Linked DNA regions of Homo sapiens. The protein of the gene in region 3 interacts with the protein of the main gene of each other region in a biochemical or structural test. Each region holds a gene or a part of one and is shown on either strand. Other genes may lie near its edges.

Evidence for each region. The genes of interacting proteins can lie anywhere in the genome.
Region 1: the proteins of SNAP25 (region 3) and CPLX1 are reported together in a solved structure, tested with the Homo sapiens proteins (2 studies listed by BioGRID, with this or other methods).
Region 2: the proteins of SNAP25 (region 3) and STX3 form a complex in vitro, tested with the Homo sapiens proteins (2 studies listed by BioGRID).

The regions. Positions count from the first base shown.
Region 1 is NC_000004.12:784,457-789,719, reverse strand, and holds the end of CPLX1 (complexin-1), read left to right. Parts: intron 1-362; exon of another isoform or gene 363-1,771; intron 1,772-1,853; exon of another isoform or gene 1,854-1,946; intron 1,947-3,021; coding exon 3,022-3,219; 3' UTR 3,220-4,763; downstream 4,764-5,263. UniProt on the Homo sapiens protein: Positively regulates a late step in exocytosis of various cytoplasmic vesicles, such as synaptic vesicles and other secretory vesicles.
Region 2 is NC_000011.10:59,798,786-59,806,378, forward strand, and holds the end of STX3 (syntaxin-3), read left to right. Parts: intron 1-889; exon of another isoform or gene 890-2,069; coding exon of another isoform or gene 2,070-2,117; 3' UTR 2,118-4,432; coding exon of another isoform or gene 4,433-4,510; 3' UTR 4,511-7,093; downstream 7,094-7,593. Other genes in the region: MRPL16 (large ribosomal subunit protein uL16m), read right to left, coding at 7,562-7,593. UniProt on the Homo sapiens protein: Potentially involved in docking of synaptic vesicles at presynaptic active zones. Apical receptor involved in membrane fusion of apical vesicles.
Region 3 is NC_000020.11:10,288,963-10,299,143, forward strand, and holds part of SNAP25 (synaptosomal-associated protein 25), read left to right. Parts: intron 1-3,919; coding exon of another isoform or gene 3,920-4,037; intron 4,038-4,198; coding exon 4,199-4,316; intron 4,317-7,962; coding exon 7,963-8,088; coding exon of another isoform or gene 8,089-8,092; intron 8,093-10,181.

The DNA.
Region 1 (5,263 bases), on a different chromosome or scaffold from region 3:
GCGCCTGCACCTCCTGTCAGGCAGCCATCTGGACAGGCCCGGGCCCAGGGAGCAGGAGGGAGACTGCCCCGCTGTGCTCCGCGCACTGACCCGCCCTTGTCCTGCATAAGCTTCCAGCCACCCATGTTGGGCAGCCCACACCTGGGCCTTCCTGCACGGGCCTTCTGAGGGCCCACTAGGCTCCCTCAATACATTGCATCCCCCTACCCCCCGCAGCTCCCACAGCGGCTAGGAGGTGTCCACCTGGTTGCTGAATGCTGGCTGTTTGGTCCTATCATTCCTATTGTTGGTTCTCAGCATTGATTAGCACCCACTGCCCTTTTTTCTCACGAATACCGTGTTTTCAGGGTTCAGGGTCTCACCTCAGACGTGTCAGGGCCTCCTGGGCGCCCCCAGCAGCCACTCCCATCCTCAGGTGTTACTTCCTGGAGAGCTGCTGCCCAGCATCACGGTGGGCCTGGGGCTGGGTGTGCCTGGGCGTTTGTCTCTGGAGCAGACGCCTCAGAACTGGGTCTCAGCCAGACCACGTGGAAGCCAGGCTCTGGTGTGCAGCCCAGCCCCGGAGCCTGTTTTCCCGGCAGAGTGACCCTGGCCCTCAGGCCAAGTCCGGCGTGACCTCAGCCTCAGAATGACCTGGAGCCTCACTGCAGCAACTGGCACTTCAGGCCAAGCTCCGAGTGTCCCACAACCTGGTGGCAGGGCCTGGGGTCTCCTTCCTGGGCCCAGAAGGAAGGATCCCACACCGTTTGCAGACAGGGTCCCACAAGCCCCAAGGGTCACTCCCCTGACCTGGGAGGTTCCTTTGCTCACACAACTCATGTTCCGCCGTTACAGGCATGCTCCTCTGAGCACACACATGTTCCTGAGTGCTTTTGCTGTGGGCAGCACAGCCTCCTGGGCTGGATACACATGTTGCCGCCACATGCACAGACCCCCACACCCCTGGCTGGAGGGAGGCTCTCTGGCCGGACCTAGCTTCCAGTGGCATCGCTCTCCCCAGCACACCCCTGGCCCCACAGGACGAAGAGCACATGCTCCCTCCACTTCCGTGCCTGGAGCTGCTGCCCTTCCCGCTGTGGATGGCTAGGACGAGAACCAATCTGCTCTTGCTGCCCCACAGGGTCAGGGCTTTGTTCTGGGCCTGCAGGGCCCTCTGGGTGTCGCCCCTGTTGTGCGGAGAACGTTCCTACCCTGTGCTCTTCGTTTCACTGAGGAGACCCCTGGAGTCCCGGCTCTGTCAAGAGTGCGCAGGGGCTGCTGAGGACTAGGGCGAGCCCACGGCCCCTCTCTCCTCAGTGGCCAGGTGGTGGTCTGGCCACAGGCGGCTGGGAACGTGGCGCCCTCCTTTCCATCTCACTGAAGGTGGCCCTGGCCCCCCACACCCAGAGCCACCTGCAGCCCTAGGGGAGGGGAGAGGTGCCGAGACTGCCCTCGGTGGGGTTGGGGAGCACACAGGCAGCCCCCCCTCCATTTGGGAGGAAGGAGGGGCCTCCTTGGAGATCCAGGGGGTGCCCAGCACCAGGAGCAGAACCAACTGCTTCTATGGGGAGGGGCTGCTGAGACAGGAGCAGGAGATGGCAGGGGAGGGGCTCCTCCTGGGCAGAAAGGCCCCTCCCTGTGGCTGGTGATCCCGCGGTGTGCTCCTCCGTCCTGTAGAGTGCTGGTGCCCACTCCCCTCCTAAGTTTTCTCCTGGACGCAGCTGCTGACGCCTTCACTACTCCAGAGCACCTGTAATCTCAGATCCAGGACCTTGGACCTGGCCCGGGGGTCCTGTTCAGGGGATGGAAGTCCAGCTCCGTACAACACCAGGCCCCCAATCCTTCCAGGCCAGCCCAACCCCACTGGTTCCCACCTTCCTGGGCAGCAGGAGGCTGTTCCGTAGTTCCGTGGCCTGACCATGACCACAGGCTTCCTGGGCTGGTGGCTCACGGGAGGGCTGGAGGAGTGTGGCGTGGGGAGGCGTATTGATCTAGAAACCAAAACCCCGGGGCCTGACAAAAACTTAGAGGCCTGGAGGGCAGAAGAACAAAATCCCACACTCCCTCTGGAGGCTCTGGGGGAGGGCCCTTCCCTGCCCCTTCCTGCGTCTGGCGGCCCCGAATCCCTGGTGTTTCTTGACCACTCGCGACCTCCTCCGCTTTCGTATGCCCGCCCCCATCCGGGTGTCTGTCCTTTCTGTCTCTTACAAGGACACTCTCACTGGACTTGAGGCCCCTCAAATCCAGGATGGCCTCGTCCCCATCCTTACCATTATGAGATCAACAAAGACCTGTTTCCGAATGAGATCACCTTTGAAGCTCCAGGCAATATGAATTTGAGGGGGACAATATTCAGCTACTACGGAGGGCAGACGCACTCACGGGAGATGAGAAACGCGGGTGGGCAGGGGGTCGGTGAGGCCCAGGCATACTGGCTGAGGGCACGACTAGGCGGGATTCCAGGACACCCAGTGCCTGGAAGTGACCGCAGCCCAGGACCCTCTGCCGGCTGCCCACGGAGCTGCAGCGGCCTGCCAGGGAGTGGCCCTGCTGGGGCCGCGGCCGCATCCAGGCAGCCTTGGCCAGGCCCGGGAGTGTGAATGCAGGTCGTGGACCAGGCACTGGGCAGGAGGGTCAGCTGCGGGTTGACTGTTTCTCCCCACCTCTGCCACGCAGCATCCTGCCCACCCCTCCCTGCCCCGGGCCGGAGGCTTCCTGGAAGGCAGGATGCCAGGGGCTGGGCTGGGTTTGGAGCCAGAGGTGGGGCCACAGCCCTCTCTCCTCTCAAGGAAGATGGGAGCCTCCCCCTCCCTGCTCCCCCCCATGTCAGCTCCTGGCCCCCATTCTCCGTGGGGGCTTCCCATTCCTCCAGGGACCCCCCGGGGTGGGGTCTCTTCTCCTTCTGGGGTCCTTGTGTGCCTGGTGGGGTAGGGGGCCGCACCCACGCCTTCGGGGGTTCCTGGGCCAGTCCCTGGCGCAGGGAGGCTGCGGCCCGCCCGGGAGCCGCCGGGACCCCCGCCCTGACCCCCGCCTCCCCCGCAGTACGGCATCAAGAAGAAGGAGGAGCGCGAGGCCGAGGCCCAGGCCGCCATGGAGGCCAACTCCGAGGGGAGCTTGACGCGGCCCAAGAAGGCCATCCCGCCGGGCTGCGGGGACGAGGTGGAGGAGGAGGACGAGAGCATCCTGGACACCGTCATCAAGTACCTGCCCGGGCCGCTGCAGGACATGCTCAAGAAGTAGCCGCGCGCGGGACAGCGGCCCCGCGGAGCCCCCGCCCCTCCCCCTACAGATCCTCCGCGGAGGCCCCTGAGGGACGAGCAGAGCGCAGCCCCCACGCCGATATAAGCCATAGCCCCAGGCCCGCCCTGCCCGCGCCCGCCGCCTCCCTCACCCGGCAAGGGGCGCGCGCCCCCAGGACCCCCCCAGTCCGCCCCGTGCTCCTCTGCCCGCGGGTGGCTGGAGCCCCATCGCCTGGGACGCCCCTTTCTCTTGCTGTTTACCGCCCACCCAGCAGCGCCCGAGGCCAGGGCCGCCGAAGGGCAGCCCCGCGACCACCCCTGTGCGCGCGTTCGCGGCGGTGGGCGCCTGTCGGGCCCGCACTCAGGAGCACAGCCATAGCAGACGGGGGGCTGCGGGCGGGGCGAGGGCGGCGGGGCCTGGGTCCCCCTCCTGCACGCGGACTCCGGGGTTCGGATCGCTCCGCCGTGAGTATTTGCGTCCGCACGCGGCCGCTCTCCGCCCCCCGGCCTGGCCCCCTCGCGCCCCTGTCCATCCGTCTCTGTCCGCGTCCTTTCCTCTCCTCTCTGGAAGGTTTTGCTTCTTACGAACGCCACGGCCGTGTTCACTTCTAAACTAAAGGAAACAAAGCAATAGGTTTGGGGGACGCCCAGCCCCCACCCCCGTCACCCCGCTCTTCCCAAGTCCTCGCCCCCCGCCCGGCCTCCTAGCCTCTCCGCCCACGCGGCTGCTGCTTCTCCCTGGGGAGGACCCCTGCCCTCGGCCATTGAACACTGCACCCTCCACAGGAGCCGCAGAGGCCCGAGGCACCGGACGCTGGAGACCCTGCGCCCCTGCCCAGCACCTCCTCCGTGGGCAGCTCCTCGGGTGGGGCCTGCGGGGTTCCCTGCGCGCAGCTGGCGCGTGTGTGGCCTAATCCACCTGGTGGCCCTGCGGGGCGGCATCCGAGCCCCTGTTTCTCCTCCATTCATGTTTAATTTGCATCACAATTTGTTGAATCTCAGGTAAATGAGGTCTTTGCATTTAATGAGTTTTATCTTGACAGGCGCCGCCTCGCCCCCGGGCCCTTTCGTCCACATCAAAAATGCATCAAGTCTCCACGTGTTTCGGGCCAGGGCGTGGCTTGGCATTGACCTTCATGACCTTACATAGCTTTAGAGAAGCCATAACGTTAGACTGCAATACTAACGACCGACGCCCCTCCGGGCAGAGACCACCGCGCCCCTCTGCGCCCCAGCGACGCGGCCCGCGGGGACGTCGCTGTCCGTCCTGCTCGCCCTGTGCCCTCTCACTGACTTCTCCCGGGTCGTGTCTTTTAAAAACTCCTGTTTTCACACCTTACAAAGCCAGCTCTGAGCAGACAGGGCGTCCTCTCGTAGAACCTGCGCACCCCGTTCCCAGCGCATGGCGCCCCGGGCCGCGAGCTTAGCTTAGACCGTGGTGTCCTCTGTCCGTCTGTCCTGCGCCTGCGCCTCCTCCTGCATGTCGGGGCCCCTGCGTGTGTTCTCTCCGGATGGAATCACAGCCAATAAACACCAGTGATTTCACACCGTGTGGCCATTCCTTCCAGAGGTCCATTTCGCCAGCCGGAGGACCGGGGCTTTCCCCCGCGCATGTTCTCTCCACGGCGGCTGCAGGGCCTCCCACCATTCTCACTCAGCTCCATCCAGTCAGACCCATTTTCCCTAGGCCGTCCAGCCAGCGCAACCTCCATCTAAACACAAACCTGCGCCTTCAGGGTCTCCCGCCCCCCAGGGTGGTTCTTCCACCCGCAAAGCATCTGCCCTCTGCTCTCCCTCCCACCTAGGACCCCCGACCACAGGCCTGTCCCTCTCCTCAGCTCCACCGGGCCCAGGGCCCCAGGTCACCCTGTGCTGCCCTTACCTCGGCCCACCCAGGAATTCCTGCCCCCCAGCACCCCCGTGGGACTGTCCCTCCTCCTGAGTCCTGGACCCGGATCCCTGCAGGGAAATGTCTGCCAACCTGGGCTGAGGCCAGAAGAGGTTCCTGACCCCAACCCAGAGAACAGCCCCTCTGCCTGGTTGCT
Region 2 (7,593 bases), on a different chromosome or scaffold from region 3:
TTACAGGCGTGAGCCACTGCACCCGGCCTGAATCACGTTTAATAGTAGTGAGCATATCAATCTGGTTATTGGGACTATTAAGACTTTTGTGACTTTAAAACAAACAATTTTTTTTTGTTGTTGAGATTGTGTGTTGCTCTGTCGCCCAGGCTGGAGCGCAGTGGTGCGATCTTAGCTCACTGCAACCTCTGCCTCCCAGGCTCAAGTGATCCTTCCGCCTCAGCCTTCTGAGTAGCTGGGACTATAGGTGTACACCAACACGCCAAGATAACTTTTATATTTTTTGTAGAGATGGAGTTTTGCCATGTCACCCAGGCTGGTCTTGAACTCCTGGACTCAAGCGATCCACTTGCCTTGGCCTCCCAAAGTGCTGGGATTACAGGCATGAGCCACTGCGCCCAGCCAGTGACTTTTAAAATATTTTTCTGAATAAAATATAGCATGCATTGTTAAAAAAAAACCTATAAAATACAGAAAACATAAAACTAATGAACTTTTAATATTATTGCTGATAACCTTGTGGCACGTTCACATACTCAGACATAGTTTTACATAGTTCAGACTATATTATCCAGTTTTGTACCCAGTTAGAAAATTATAAGCATCATTCCACAGCATTAAAATCTCTTTGTAAATCTAATTTTCAATATGAGATTGTGGCCATACTCTCAAATATTTAACATTTTCACAATGTTGGAGGTTTATGTTATTTTGCTGTAGCTAACAGTGTGACTAACCTTATTTAATATTTTTCTCATTTAAATTTTCTCTTTATTACCAACTCATATAAGTTGGAGTACTGAAATAACAGGTATAAACATTTTTAAGACTTGGCACATAATACCATGCCAGTACCCAGAGCTGTGCCTTCCTTTTATATTTGTTTCAGTGTGTCTCTTCTTATTCCTCCTCCTTCCATGTGACCAGGGGATCTAAAAGTCAGCTTATTACAGCATTGAGCATTCAACTTCATCTTGAAAGATAAGCAACAGTGAGATGAACAACCTCTCATAGACAGGTGGTTGGTTGATTTTTTTTTTCCCCTCTTTTTTCTGGCACTTGGAGTCTAGCCCTTGACTTTTTTGTATGTGAACTTTAAATTTTGGTTTGGCTCTGAACAATCTGATTGAAATAGATGTTGAAATTTTAAAAAGATATAAGAGTTGTTATTTTTCCATATCCTTGGATGAAAGATGATATGCAAATTTGTGGTGCCCCTTTCTATTCCTAATTCCAGGACTTCAGAAGGTATATGAATCATTTTTCAGGACGTAACTCCTCAAAGAGGAGCAGACTAATTAATATGTTGTTTTTGGTTGACTAACCCTATCTTTAACCTGCTAAATTGCTGAGCAGTTGTTAAGCTGCTTTTTTTGTAGTGTATTCCATGTTCCCTAACAAAGTCAAGACTGATTGTTGCCTAGGTCTGGACTCTCCTCTTCCTCCATGTCACCCAAGGGAGAGAGGTCTCTGAACAGGAGGGTAGACAGTGTGTTTATATTTCCTAGTAATGTGCCAGCTGCTTGCTCTAAGATCATAGTATCCTCATTTTACAGACGGGGAAAGAGCAATGAAGTTAAGGAACTTGCCCAAGACTACATAGCTCATAAGGTGGAGCAGCCATAATATGACCCCTGAACTTTTTCCATAGGCTTTTCATTGTGTCCTTCTGTTTTCTAAAAGAAAGGCAGCAGGGAGTTCATGAAGATCGAGAACCAGAAAGCAGCTCCTGCAGCCTGTCTTCAGGAGCGGTGTTGCTGTGGGACCTGCAGAGCAGGTGTTTTCACTAGGGATTGTCCCTTCCCACCACGTCCTTCCATGGGTGTGGACAGCCTGTGAGAAGGCTTATAAAAGGCCTAGAGGCTTTTCTATTTTTTTCCCCTCTCACAGTAGGGCTTTTTGTTCTTTGTACAGTGGGATATTTAACTCCAAGTTCTGTCCTGGGTTTGTCTATTTCATAGTGATTTCTGGTCTTTCCTCCCCACCTTCCAGGTTTGTGGCTGACTCCTTCTGTTGCCCTTTGCCTTCTTCCTGTGTACTGATCAGCTCCTCCTTTCCCTGCCTCCTAGAAACTGATTTCACTCCAGACTGGTGTGGCCACCCTTGTCTTCAGATGAGAATGGAGTCTGAATGGCCTTCCTGAGAGCGAGTGCGACCCGTTCCTTTGTTTCCTTGCAACCACCCTTGGACCTGACTCAGCTAACAATCTAGCCCTGGGGGAATGTGATCTACCTGATGCGACCCTGAGTTCTCCCCAGAGCCTCCTCCTGCCCCACCAGCTCTCAAGTACCTTTTCTCCTGGACTGTGTGGACCCACCCAGCTTTCTTCCTCCCTGTTGTGTGTCAGATTATGCCTTGCACTTGGGAAAGCTCTTGTGAGACTCTCCCAAGGTGCTGTATTTTTCTACCTCATGGAGTATTCTCCCAGAAACTGCAATGTATTTTTTTAGGGGAGTATCTTTAACAAAGCAGAATGATTCTTCTAAGTTTGGCAACAAGAAGGCTTGGATCTGAGTCTTCTACCTGGCAGGATGCCAATCCTGTTTGTTGTCCGTATGTCCTGAAAACATGAGGGACTGGCAGATGTCATTTTGGTCTAAAGAGCTGACTTGTTTGAAATTCAGCCTTAAATTAAGCTCTTAGTTGTTCAGCTTGGGGGGCAACTTTGATTTTTCTCTGTGTTGTAGTCTCTCATATTTACTCAAGGAGGGACCAGGATGATACAGTCATCTGAGGTTATGCTTTGCAAAAGGCTGACGGTATGGAATATGTTTCCATGTCTGAGTCTTAGAAACTGGCTGCTCATTGTTAGAAAGTGATGCTTTGTGAGACTATTGTCTTGGGGCCAAAAATAATCAGGGATTTTAAATTGGGCAAGGGACAAGGTGCTAGAATCCTAAGCTCTGGAAATATTTCATGACACTGGTGTATTCACTCATGTGTTCCAGATGTATTCTAATTGTGTATGAAATGTATGTACACATAAGTGTGTGTGTCTCAGGAAGTAGGAAATAAAAATGGAAGCTATTATGACCTCAAAAAAAAAAAGCCAACTTTGAGCTAGGATAAAAATTGGGTAAAGGACATTTGCTTACCTGCAAATGAATCACTGTGGAAATGTGATCTTCCCATATCATCAAGAAACTTGTTTTCTGGATGAATACTGGGAGAATAAAATGAGAACTCTGGAGTGAGCTAAATTGATCCCAATTAAGTTTTTCTGCTTAGCAGACAGAAGGTATAATTTTTTGACACCCTTTCCCACCTGGTGCCTATGCTAGGCTTGTCCTGAGAACATCCCTCAGTAACTTGATATTCACATGACCTACAGGATGTCCCATCTGCAGGGCTGAGTCAGTTGGGGAACACCAGAGGCTACACAGTAGCTCTTCCTGCTACTCGGTTAATGAGCTTGGCAGGTTCTTTGTCTCACTGAATTCTTATCATGGAAACAGCAGCAGCAGCCGCTAGGAAATCTTCAAGTGTAGTGTCTGTGCTAACCCAGTGGTAAATCCCTTAGATCCCCTGCTGGTCTCTGGCAGTCTCCTTGATTTTGGGTACCATGTATATTTTCCGCTTTGACTTTAACGCTTTCTAGGATAGGGTAAGCACCCTTAATTCAGGCACTGTCCATTAGCTTCCTTTGCAAAGGCTACTTATGGCCGGTCACAATCCAGCACTCAGACAGAGCCAAGGCAATATCCTCTTGCCCATGGCTATGATGTCAGACAGTGGATGGGCTCCAGCAACAAGAGACAAAATAACTAAAGGCCTTTGCTCTCCTCTGACATTGAGGCCTGGGGCTTACAGTTTGGAATACAACATGTGAAGGTTTTTGTTGTTGTTTGTATTTTTTAGATGTAAACTTGATTATTTTATTGCTAATTTAAAAATAAAAATGACTTTGTATTGATTGTGAAACGGTTCTGGCTCTGTCTCGATGCAGAAACACAATGATCTGGTGCCACCATGTGGTGATTTTTATTCAGGTTTTAGAATGCAGTTCACACCTTTTTAAGCCATGTGCTGGATCAGATGGTTCAAAAGTGCAATTTTTGAACATGGTTTAACTCCCACAGAATGCAGTGTAACTATGTTTGTGTTTCAGATTTGAGGTGTTCCCCCCAAAAGAATTTGGTTCAGTCCTTGGGAGTATCTGGCTTTAGGAGGAAATGGGGGAGATCTGTCACGATGTTATCTAGAAGGTGGAATGACCATACCAAACATCCTTTTAATCTAACTTGAATGTCTCACCAAAAATAACATTTCTGTTGGCATTCTGGGTCCTAGAAGCCAGATCCATCTCCTTTTTCCTTCTGTTGCTCTCTTCCTTCACACCCTCTTCCATGTCCACATGCACTTATCTCCCTGCAGAATACTTTTTGCGATGATGTTTCTCATGTATTCTTTCTTTCCTTGTCTGGATGAGCAGAAGAAGATCATGATCATGATCTGCTGTATTATCCTTGCGATCATCTTAGCTTCCACCATTGGGAGCATATTTGCCTGAAAAAGGTGAGCCATCTGTGGGGAGGGTCAGACCTTCTTTCACTGACTTGAAACCTTTGTGTCTTGGGGGCACTCTAGGTGCCTTAATCTGGGTGGGATTAGGTGCTAATAATGGTTAGAGAAAACTAAAGAAAGGGATGTTTCAGAGACAGAAAAGTGAGTGAAGAATGAACTGTTAGTAGGTAGTCTGTGGGAGGAGGGGGGAGACAGAAGGTGGCAATCTGTCCTATAACCTGGTGTGGCAGAATGCTTTGTACAGGTGAAGGATAGTGATTCCTGCTAAACAGTTTGAGCCTTGGTATCTGGAAGTGACAAAAAGAACAAGAATTAGTTCTTGCATTAGGTGCATCTTGAACTTTTTGGAAGAGGGCCGGCCACACAGTAAATTCAAATTAAATTTCTTCCCTTTCAAGGTTAATGAAAGTTAACACAGCCTTGTATGTAGTCCTTTACCCCGGGTAAGAGGGATTTGGTGATCCCAGCCACGAACACCATGCTATATAATCTATGATTTTTTTCCTCCATTTTTCTGTTATCTCCCACAGCCCTCACAGATTGATCGACTGGCATTTCTAATCCTCCTTCCACTTCTGTGGTACCATCACTTCTCCACGCAGACTCCTCATCAGCTTCTCCTCTTTCCATTATGAAACTTCTTAAGAAACAGGGCACCAATCAACTACTTATTAAGAATTATGCAAAGAATAAACGTATACAGAATTGGGCGGAGGACAGGGACAGGGAGTACAGATACATAGCTGATTAGGCAGATGGTTTAAAGGAGGACTGCAGGGTAGAGAAGCAAGCAGAGTGGGCGCCTCTTTAGGAAGTGACACAGCCTGCATGTGCAGTATGGCTGTGAAGGGGCAGATATCATAGCACACCTAACTCAACAGGATCTTACTTGAACTGCTGTGAGTTGGTCAAGTCAGGGCACTTCTGCTCTTCAGGCTCCTCTAGGTCACACCTTTGACCACCCTACATCTGTTTCCTCTTTCAGGCTCCAGTAGTAGTCTTAAAAGTGAAGTTTATCTAAGGATAAGCACATGCCTATCTTGCTCACTGCTGTGTCCCCACTTTTTAGCACAGCGCCTGCTGCTTACAGGTACTCAAATATCTGCTGACTTAATTACTTATAATTAAGCTCTTATTTCAGTCATGGACAAATCCTTGGGTTTGACTCCTAAACTCTTTAAGGTACCAATGAGAACGTGGTTTGTTACTGTCAGAGGCTGTGTAAAGCCGCTTGGGAATGGGCTGATCTGCTTATGCAAAAATGCTACCAACCTTTCAAACCCCATTACCACAACATGAAAATTTAAAGTGCTTTTTCTATGGGTGGTGATGGTGGAGTTCTAGCAACAGCCTCTTAATCTGTGGAGAAGATGGCTGGCTCCAGGACTGTGGTTCAATAACGAAATACAGGCCCACAAAATAAAATAGGTTTATAGCATGACTGAACTCACACATCAGTAGAACACTCTGTGAACCATAACAAAGAACAGATAAAGGTGTCAAGTGAGAAAGGTGAAATGAGGTTATCACTCACTTCACCTCTCACCTGATTTGTGTTGCTAGCTGAAACTGCTGGCCAGTAACGTATGTATAAGAAACTGTTATAGGCCGGGCACGGTGGCTCATGCCTGTAATCACAGCACTTTGGGAGGCCAAGGCAGGTGGATCACCAGACTGACCAACATAGTGAAACCCCCTCTCTACAAAAAATACAAAAATTAGCCAGGCATGGTGGCTTGCACCTGTATTCCCAGCTACTTGGGAGGCTGAGGCAGGAGAATTGCTTGAATGCAAGAGGCGGAAGTTGCAGTGAGCCGAGATCGCGCCACTGCACTCCAGCCTGGGCAACAAGAGCTAAATTCCATCTAAAAAAAAAAAAAAAACAAAAAAAAAAAACTGTTCTTAATACTTAATACTGTCCCCAATTCCATTCAAGGTTCAGTTGTGTTCAGCTTTAAAACCAGCTATGTGAATGTGAGTTCTAGTGCAGATTATTTAGTGATTATGTAACTAAAATTGATGAAAAAATCACACTATACAACTGTGAGGAGCACACAACTGCTAAGTTTGTACTTTTGAAAGTAAATTATTCTTTGTTTGATACCTTATTTTTTAAGAAAGTGGGATTAAAAATATTTTGGTCAGTGCTGTTTTCTACCCACCTTCAAAAGCCAATGGTTTGATATTTCTATTAATTTGTGCTTCCTTTAGTTTTAATAGGGGATAGAAGACTGCAGCTGGTTGGGTCTGGAAAACATTAATCTGGGCAAACGGAGCTGGAGCTATGAGGATCTGAGTCCTAGGGGGCCCTCATTCACTAGCAGTAAGAATTTAAGTGGTGCATGGCACATAGCACTGTACTAGATTCTGCAGGGGCACAAACATAGAGCCAAACACTCTCCCTCTTGGAGAATTTCAGACCCAGAAAAGGCCACGCAGTTCTAACTTTTGTCATCGGTTCCTTTTGCTAAAAGGCAAAGGGTATGTTCCTTGCCTATTGTCCAACATACCCCTTCCAAGATTGTGAGAAGATGGGTAGCTGGGCATCAATAAATATTGAATCAATTGACCTATGTACTGTTGTTTTTTTCTTACTCTAAAAATGTGTTTTTAACCTAGTAAAATATCACAGAAACTGGCTCCTGAAGTGTGTACGTATAAAAGGCAGTATAAACATTTAAGTGAGACTCGCATCATAGATGGGGGAATGCAAACATTTGTTTCAGCCTTCATGTTCATCTTACACCCCAGGAGGACCAAGAACTCTTTAGTCATTGAGGCCTATTTCTTAATCTTTTAAGGGATTAAGAATGACCAATGAGAAGTTATATCCTGAAGTGATGTTTAAATTTTATTTAATAAAAATACAGTTTTCTTTTTAAATCAACAAATAACATTGTTTTTCAGAAATCTACTCAAATGCTGCTCCTTAGTTATGGCTTAAGAGCTACCCAAAGACTTCAGTGGGTAGGCTGAGGGGAATAGAAATGCAGAATCCTTCTTTCAGTAGCCTATATACAGTTATCTCCTACACTCACTACACACGTTTGGGCATGTAGAACTTGCCCC
Region 3 (10,181 bases):
AATTTCTCTTCATTTATGCTCTACTAATTTTGTTTATGCGTGAGCACCAAAAGTGTTGACTATTTCTACCTCACAGCAGCACGGGAGCCTCAAGAAACAGCCATTCTTCTAAAGAACCATCTCAACCACTGTTGGGTCAGGCCAGGCCATTCCAGGTTGTCCAGTTAAATGATTGCACTAGGAAATTTCCTATGGGATTCTTGCTTTATACCCAGGTATCGGGAGACACCAAGGAGCACTGAGCATGACAACCAGACCTGGAAACGTACTGAGCCCTGGAACTTTCATTCCTCTAGAAAATTTGTCACCAAGGGAAGTCCCCAAATGACCCTGGCACTAATGTGGGCTTTTACCTGCATATCTCTTGTTCCTTTTGCTGGTCTTTGCTGAGTTGTATGTCTGTTTTGATGCTGAAGATGTGACTTTTGGGAAAATCTCCTGGGATCAGCTCCAAACTAAACAGTGAAATATTTGACTACTGTCTGACAGAAGAAAGACAAAGTAAATTCCTGTCCGGAGAGTCAGCTATCTTAAAAGGTTCATGGCACTACAAGGTGGCATCTGAAAAACCATCTCTCTAGCTAAAGTCCATTCACCAATATCTGTTATGAATGACTAAGGCTGTACTTAGTCATGATAGCCACATAGGGCTATTTAAATTTAAATAAATTTCTATATGTTCATAAATGCTAAGAAAAATGAAATTCATAGAGGCAGCATCTTGTAACTGGATATACTCATGAAGGCTGCATACTAGATTAATAGTATTAATGCTTACTATTCTTCTACTGATTTTTACTAGATTGAGAATACTAAGGGCCCCATGTTGGCTTACTTAGGAGAGATTAGTAGAAATTTTGTTTTCACCAGTCATTGGAAAAATATTAATGGAAAACATTAATATAGATCCTTGAGGATTCTGTCATTGGTGGATCTATCACAAATAACCAGTGATCCAATATCATGGCAAAAGAAAGCCCAAGCTCTGGCCCCAACATATAGTGTCACCTACCTGAAGACCCCCTCCCTACTCAAAATGTTATTCTCCTCCCAGCCCCCAAGAATAAACAGAAATGAGCCAGAAAACAAGCTTAGGGAGATCAAAAGCAGTCAACACTGGATGGTGCGTTGCATCAGCCTCAGAGATGCTGCTGTTCATCCCAGAATGAGATGCTTATAAGCATTTCCTGAGAAGCATCTTCACAGAAATCATTGAAGTGCCATGAAGTCCCAATATGCCAAACATCTCCACAAACATAACTCAGTACACTCTAAAAATTAATATTATTGCTAGAATTTCTGCAACAAAATGACTCCACAATATTTTTTAAATTAAAGGTTTGACTTAGAATTCTTATGTAAATATATATTCAACTGATATTGGTAGTTATAAAATAGTGTTCTGAATCAACTATTTTCTGAATAGTTTTCTGAATCAAATTCAGCTTCAGAGTTTTCTCTTTTAGTCAAAACTTTGCCAAATTAAGCTGGTAACCGATGGCAGAGCCCAGCTTTCTGAAATATGGATTTAGACGTGCCTGTTTGTTTTTCCCTTTTTAATATCAATTATCTAATTCATAGGTCCAATACCTGTGCACCAATTCACATATATATGTTACCTCCTAATCTCTGGAAGCACAGTGGATGGGTCCCTAATATCTTGTCAGAGAGTTAATATTTTGGCCAAAAAAAAAAAAAATTATCAACTCGCTTTGTAACTTAGGAGAAACTCCTCAAGAAAGACAAATAATTGCATATGTGTCCCCACGCCATAATCTATGCTTATTTCAGCTGTCATTAGCTGGGGGCAGCATCTCTCCTTCTGAGTCCAGATGCCTCCTCCAATCCATCTCAAGCCTGCATTCCCAGAGGCCATTAGCAATTACTTGATTGGGATTTGGCATCCCTATTGTCTGTATATATAATGGTTCTTCATCTGATGATGAGTTCCTTTCCCCACACCAGTCCCTCCACTTGAATATTTACCTTGATCTACAGACTAATTTATTGCATTCTTAAAAGGAAACTGGAGTGAAATCCTTAGAAAAGAAAAAAATCTTCTTGAATGTAGGGGATTGCCATATATATAGCCTTTTAAAAATTTTTTTTAATTGTAATTTTTATTTTTGGGACGGAGTTTCGCTCTTGTTGCCCAAGCTGGAATGCAATAGTGCAATCTCAGCTCACTGCAACCTCCACCTCCCAGGTTCAAGCAATTCTCCTGCCTCAGCCTCCCAAGTAGCTGGGATTACAGGCGCATGCCACCACGCCCAGAAATTTTTTTTGTATTTTTAGTAGAAACATGGTTTTACCATGTTAGCCAGGCTGGTCTCAAACTCTGGACCTCTGGTGATCTGCCTGCCTTGGCCTCCCTAAGTGCTGGGATCACAGGCATGAGCCACCACACCCAGCTATATTTGCGGATTTTTTTTTTTAAGCCATCACTGTGCCTGTATTTATTCGGCAAAAGTTCTCCTGCACTACCTTATTATCTCCTCCAGGTATTCAATGCTGGATAAACAATGAAATTTTGTTTTCACCTGTCATTTCAAAAGCATAAGAGAAATAGCAGATTCCTCATGAACTGAATTCTGTTCTTTAGCCTCACGAAAGAAAACACAGTAGGCTTTTATTTTCCAAATTCACAGTCTGGCAGTTTGGGTCACTAGTGAATGTATCTTAGTTTTTTTGGAAGCACAATTTCCACTGTATAACTTAATGTGAAATTGTGTTTAAGTGATAATGTATGCCCTTAGGCTGGAAATGTACTTATCAGTTGTATTCTAGGCATGCCTTTATTCCAGGAGGCACAGGCATGCATGCATGAAAATACAGATGAAAAGAGGAATGGAAATGTAATTAGGTTTTGTAATTAGCCAGCGAAGACATCCATTGCTGCCTTCCTTTAATGGTCTTTTAAAGCTGTTTTAAAAATCCTTTCATTGAACTTGTAGTTATCTCAATTTGGTGATACAATTCAAAAAAATTAATCAAGTTGGTGTATGTAACCTTGGCAACCTAGAAGTATGATTCATTTTTATGACTATTGATCTATGTACTTAGATACACTAAGGTCAGCTATGCTGGCAGCAGTGACACCATATTGTCCTATGTTCCAATTCATAATCCTACTTCCAAAGAGACATTCATTCTCCCTGCTCTCTGCCTGGGCTTGGAGCATGACCCCCATTATAGACTTGGAAATCAGGGGGCAGAGAAGTGAAATGCCTTCCAAAACATTCATAGCAATTAAGTCATAGGATGATAGAGGAATTGCAATGTTCCAGGACTTACAATGTTGCTGTGTGGATGTTACTCTTTTTTTAAAAAACAGCTTTTACGAATTACATATGCACAATCAAGTGCAGACCATGGCTACCTCTGGCTAGACTGCCACTGCTAGGGGAAGAAAAGACATCCATACCCATTGCTTATGATTGCTGCTGCTGCTGTTGTCTCCAAAGAAGAAAATGGATTCTATTTTCTACCCTTATCTGGTTGAGGATGCTTAAAAACCAAAAGATGGAGATATTTTAAAGTTGAAGCAGATCCTTTCCTTAGTAGCGTTAAACTGGAATGCCTAAAACATAAACTAACACCCTGTTTTTTTTTCTCCTGGATTTCACTGGTGCCTGAGTAAGCGAATATGCTGTGCTGTTTTCCTGGACACTCAGAATCAAACAGGCCTTCCACCCCATCCCATCATGTTGAATTACAAAGTATTTTGAGCATCGTTTGGTTTGTTTCTTTCCACCCATACCTGTGTAGGGCAGCGGTAGCAGTCTTCAACAATGCATCCTCTTGGACAATGCATTGTAATATCTCTCTTTCAAATTCTGTTTCACATAGTCATTTCTCATGTTCTGTTGGAGACCCCCAAAAAATTCATTCCACACTGTCATCCCTTTGTCCTAACCAGAACAACTCGATCGTGTCGAAGAAGGCATGAACCATATCAACCAAGACATGAAGGAGGCTGAGAAAAATTTAAAAGATTTAGGGAAATGCTGTGGCCTTTTCATATGTCCTTGTAACAAGTAGGTACTGGGTACCAGCTCTAATCTGTGGCGTCCAGTTTTCTTTCTTTTTTTTTTTTTCTTTTTTAATGTCAAAGTGAATGTCTGAAGTTTTGTCTTTTTTTCTTTGTCCTTTTCCATCTGCTTCATTCTGTGGGGATAAAATACTTGTGTTTAATCAGAACAACTGGAACGCATTGAGGAAGGGATGGACCAAATCAATAAGGACATGAAAGAAGCAGAAAAGAATTTGACGGACCTAGGAAAATTCTGCGGGCTTTGTGTGTGTCCCTGTAACAAGTAGGTGCTGCCTGCCTGCCTGAAGCTTTGATTTCCCAAGGCCCATCTCCAAGCCTTGACAAGCTCATTCCTGCCAAGCTCATAGGCAGGATGAGCATGTGGCATGCAGAACAGATCAATACCGTCTCCAATGCATTCATCTCATAGCATAGATGATATTAGCAGGAGTTACTGTTGATGCATTAAAAATCAGGCATACTACAGTGAAAGCTTCACTGTCAGCAACTTTTATTGATGAACGTTTCAACATTTTCCAGAAAGTGTACCTTGAGACAGAGGCTAGCCTCAAGAAAGAGGCACCCAGGGAACTTCCTTTTCCCCAACCCCAAGAGTCAAAATTACAGATTTAGAAAAGGCTGCGGGTAAGTTTGGAAGATGAGAAACACATATGCGAAGGTTTGATTTTTTCCAAAATAAAAGAGACAGGTAATTTGGCCCAGGGAAGGATTCTATAAATTAGAGAATATGACAGAGATTCTCCCTTTCTACTGCCCACCAGTTGCCAAATTTTGTCAATAGATGCTGCCACTGCACCCAACACAGAGGCAATGAGCTCTTCAGCAAGAAGTGCTCAAGCCTTACTCAAATTGGACCCATCCCTCCCAAATTTTTCTCCTTGGAAGATCTACCCGTACACTGGCTGAAATGTTGAAATGTGTAGATTTTGCATGCACAACATCACAAAACATTCAACTGTTCTCAAGGTTCTGCAACGCTTTTTTGGAATGTAGCAGAAATGTGACATGTGGTTATAAAGGTTTGCAATGGAAGGAACCTAAAACTGAGGGTTCTGGAAGATTGTCTCATTTGACTAGTGGTGGAAAAAGAAATGCATGAGTGGATTGCCCAACATGCATTTGGAAAATTAAACTCCTTATCCAATCTCCCTCACCCCTCCCACTTCCCCCTTCTAAAAGAAGACTTTTTCCTAAAAGCTCTCCTGATCCTAGCTTTTAGAATAGAAATTGACGTCATTTTTAGCAGATTATATGACCATTCACATCCTTTAAACTTTGAGGCTGATTTAAAATATCCCACTTCCTGTTTAGGAGGGGGAGGGGCTCATATTGCAAAAAAATTAAAAAATTCTGCTTTTTAAAGAGTGATCTACAGTAAAGCCTGATTAACTGGAATCTAGCTAACTGGAAACCTCAGCTGCATGCTCTTGCTCCCTTCCATTTTTAGCAAAAAAGAAACAAAGAAAAAAAATCACATCAGAAATGTAAAATGGTTTTTCTTCCAGGGTAGTTTGCATTGTCTCACTTAGTCTCCATCCTCCTGCAACTTCCACATCTATGAGGACCAAACAATAAGAGTTGATCTTCACAGAAAAGGCCATCAAGCAATCAGTATAAATGATAACCAAGGAAAGATTCAATCAGGTCTTCTACCTTAAGACTTTCAGGCAGGAAAGTGGCTCAGGAGTCTAGCAAAGATATTCACTCATCATCCATGAAACAAAACTTTCCTCCATGGCCCCACTGTTCATTAAGAAAGTCATATAATTCATCAGAAAAAAAAAAAAAAAGCCTCATTACCAAGCATTCCAGTTAGTCAAGATTTGACTGTATATTCCTTTCAGTGGCAACTTGCCCCCAGGTGAGATTTCCATCCATTTCATGATAAATTCCAACAGATACATTTTCCCCCCTTCATCAACTGTGTGTGAAGAAAGGGTGAAGGCAGGGTCCCCTGGGATGGATTCTGATGTTCTAATGAAATGATGGCTCCTACGAATTCCACTTTTGAGTGGTCACTAATTTCCTTAATGCACAAGAGACCCTAAACTAAGCTTCAAAGCTTGACTGAGGTGTTCCCTATTGTGTGTAAATAATGCTTTAAAAACCATGTGTCACAACGCAGTGGCTGGTGGTGCCCTGGACTCTCTGAGGGCTTCGCCCTGTCTCGGCATGTTTCAAGGGACGATGGTAGATGTACGGCAGTGATGTGAGTCTATGTGCAGCATTGTGGGTGCAGTGGTTTGCCTTCTTTCAGAAACGCATACTTCCCACTCCTTTGACTTTGCCAAAGATGGTATAGCAGACATTTGACATAGCAGAAAACATCACAAAGTCCATATAACTTCTTTTAATCTGAGGAGGGAGGAGATGGGGAGTTGGAAAAATAAAAATTAAAAAAGCCAGACTCTAAGCCCTATTAAATTTAGTTTGGGGATCTCGTTTCATTGAATGGGTCCATGGCCCTTTGGTGCAATTAATTTTGACTGCACTAAGGCCTGCGGCATTATAGACTTGATTGTGGGAGTTGCTGAAATTCCATTGGTACAATTTTCCAGTTTGTCTCTAGGGTTGCTTGGCCCCCAGTCTGCAAGTATTAGAGCCAGTTTTAATAGATGGCTGTGGTCCTCTGGCGAAAGAAGAAGATAAAATGTTAAATTCTGGTGTCTTACAAAAAAAAATGTGAAAATGGGACCAAAGAATGTCTCTTGTTTTTGGACTAAAAAGCATATGGTTTCTACTATGTAAAGAACCTAAAAACATCTTTGATTGCCTTTAATTACAACACTCACCAAAATATGCTGCACATGTTTCTATTGGGCACAATAGGTATGCCTGGATTTTAAGTCTTTTCTCCAAGGCAGCTCAGTGAAATACAGCCCATGGAGACCATACCAGCATTAAACCACTCTCCTCCATTACAACCCCAGGATAGTTTAAACTAGGAGTTTGTAAGCACTCTCTGCCCTGCCCCTCAGCCCAACAAAGAAGCTACTGAACCTGCGTTTCAAATCCTCATGAAGGCTATTACTGTCCTGCTAGTGCCTTTTTCGAGAATGGTCAACTTCTGGAGTAGTTTGGCTTAAATGAGAATGCTTCACTTTCTACTCATGCCTGTAGCTGGTGCATGAAGAAGACGTAGAGGGGTTTCCCTTTTTGGTGCTAGATGGCTTGTTCTCTCTTCTCTTTTCCTGCATTCATTTCACTATGCTTCTTTTACTTTTTGTCTCTGTGGACAAAGGTTTGTACATCAACTCTGGATGTATGGTGACTGTTTGGAAGTACCGATATATTATCTAATTCAAATCACTCTAGAGGCAATGCAAAGACCATCACTCTTGGCCAACCACCAATCCTTTATGTCCTTCATGGAGCTTTGGAAATGTTAGTTCCACACGTGTTGGGAAAAAAAAATATTCCACAGGGATCTTTGCATGATGGTGTGTAAAAACTTGGTTGAGGATGTTTTCTTGATGACAGTGTGTTGCTGTGGTGTGATGTGCACACTCTACTTGGCAGTCTTGTTTTGTGTCTGTCTGCCAGTATGTTTTTCTCTGTTTTATGTCTCCAAATATAATCACATCACTAAAATAGAATTAAATGTCCTCCAGCTACCTTAATCCTTGTCCAAAATCCAAACTAAACCACAAAACAAACCAAAACAAGAACAACCTTGTGGGCAAAGATTGCAGTCCATTGCAATGGATTCGATTGGAAGTGAAATGTTGAGTAGCTGAGGCATGGTGGTGGCCAACTGTTTGGGTCTGGATTATGATATATCGGTATTATCTAATGCCTCGACTTAAAACTCATTCGCTTGGTTCGATTCTTCGCTTGAAGAAGTGACAATTGTTGAGAGCTTGCTCCTCCACCCCTGTGCCTTGTCACTCACCCTCTCTTTTGCATAGGCTTAAATCAAGTGATGCTTACAAAAAAGCCTGGGGCAATAATCAGGACGGAGTGGTGGCCAGCCAGCCTGCTCGTGTAGTGGACGAACGGGAGCAGATGGCCATCAGTGGCGGCTTCATCCGCAGGTGAGCCTCATGCAGCATACACTGTAGCAGTTCTCTATTGTCAAGTACAAACAACTCCAAAACTGAGTGGTTTTCTAAAAAACAACCATTTTATTGCTCATTAATCTACATACCTGCTAAGTGTTCTTTTCTAAGCCTTTCCTGGACCTTGCCTGGGTGGGGTGATCCAAGATGGCCCCATTCACTTGTCTGGTGGTTGGCTGGGGCTGTTGGTGGGGCATGTCTGTTCTTCTCCATGTGGCCTCTTCAGCAAGAGAGCCCAGGTTCCTTACATGGTGGTAGCAGTATTCCAAGGGGGCAAGCCTCAGTGCACTTACCAAACCTTTGCTTGCTTACCTTGTATTTGCCGGTTTCATTAGACAAAGCAAGTCACATGACCACATCCAGACTCAATGTGGCAGTAGACAGGCATCACATTCCATGAGTTTAATTGAATAGAGCTTATAAAAGAGACTACTTACAGAGGGGTGGGCAGGACTAATAACAAGGAATGGTGAAGCACTTCTGAGCTAGCAATAGCAGGAAGTTGTTACCACCATAGTCCTGGGGGACAGGAGAAGGAATGATTATCAGAACCCAGCAATAGTTACGACTGTGGGCAAGGAACTATCAGTAGAGAAATACAGCCACTACCAAAGCTAACAGGGAGTGAAAGAGGGAAATAAATGCTGTAGCCCCTCACTCCTCTTGCCCTGCAGTTTCATTGGCCATTAGCCAAAGCCTACTGAAAGCCAGAGGGTAAGAGGAGCTGGGTGATATAGTCATGAGGTCAGCTCCTGAGAGCACAGAGCAAAGAAGGTCCAAGAACGGATTTGGAGTGAAAATAGAGAATAATGAGCTTCTTATTAATGATTTATTTTGAAACCTAGAATCAAAAGCCAATTTAAATATCTATTTTTAAAAGTTCAAATTATGACTCAGGGGCATTTCCTTTAAAAAAAAAAAAAACTCAAGTTACACACATCAGCCAATTCAGAACTCAGCTCTCCCTTTGCTCCCAGGGAAAGTAGCCCAAGGGTTCTCAAGCCTGGCTGTACATTAGAATCACCAGGGGAGACTTTTTTTTCTTTTACTACCAGTGTTTGGGCCCAATCCACACCAATTGAACCAGAATCTCTTGAAGTGAGACACAAGCACCTGTGGCCCATTAAAGCTCCTCAGGTGATTCTGATATGCACTCAGGGCCAAGCACCATTGAACTAGAAGTATCTCTTAGCTATTGATGATCATTTAAATAAACTTCTTCCCTACAGGAAAAAGCCAGAAAGTTCTCCTTTAGTTTTTTAATTTTCTCTGCCCTGGGCTGCTTTTGAAACCATAATGAGCCAGTCTGCATTGGGAGTTACCATGGGGGAAGGATTTTAACCCTTCTGAATATTTTTTAGCTCAATACCATATATACTAGGGAAATTCTGAAATAAGTACCTCCTTAACTTTCAAGTTGGACTGTGAAAAAATGTAATGTGTTTTGTGAGCCAGCTCCTTCCTCCCATTCCCATTCCACTCAACCTGAAACAATACTCTTTTGTCACAGTTTCACAGTTTTTGACTCTGAAATCACCTATGCACCATGCCACTAAAAAACCCATGTTATTAACATATGAGTAAATAAAAATCATCTTGAACAAGTAGCTCTCCTTGGAGTTCCTGGGAGCAAGCAGGGTTAAGGGGCAAACTGTAATTATCATTACTCTTCCCATTGGTGTCAATCCCAAGTGTGAAAAGAGATGAGCACAGAGACTCTGACTTAGCACAATAAGCTTTTTATTGTATTCTTAATTTGAGTCTTAGAAATTTTGAGACTTAATTTGAGTCTTAGAAATATTAAGAATATTCTTAGAAAGAAGAATATCGTTTCTAATTCCATCTTCGTGCTCTGACCTAAAGTCCTTTCAAAGAAAATGTTTTCATCCTTAAACAATAAAAATTGAAATAAACATATGAAGGGGAAACAACATAATGGAAGGAGTGAGAAAGTAGATAAATTAATCTATTTAATATACCTTCTTTAAGAATAGAAATTCAAGGGTTCAAAAAGCAATTTTAAACATTTTTTTTAAATGTATGAAAGCTAAAATGTGTTTTTGTACTGG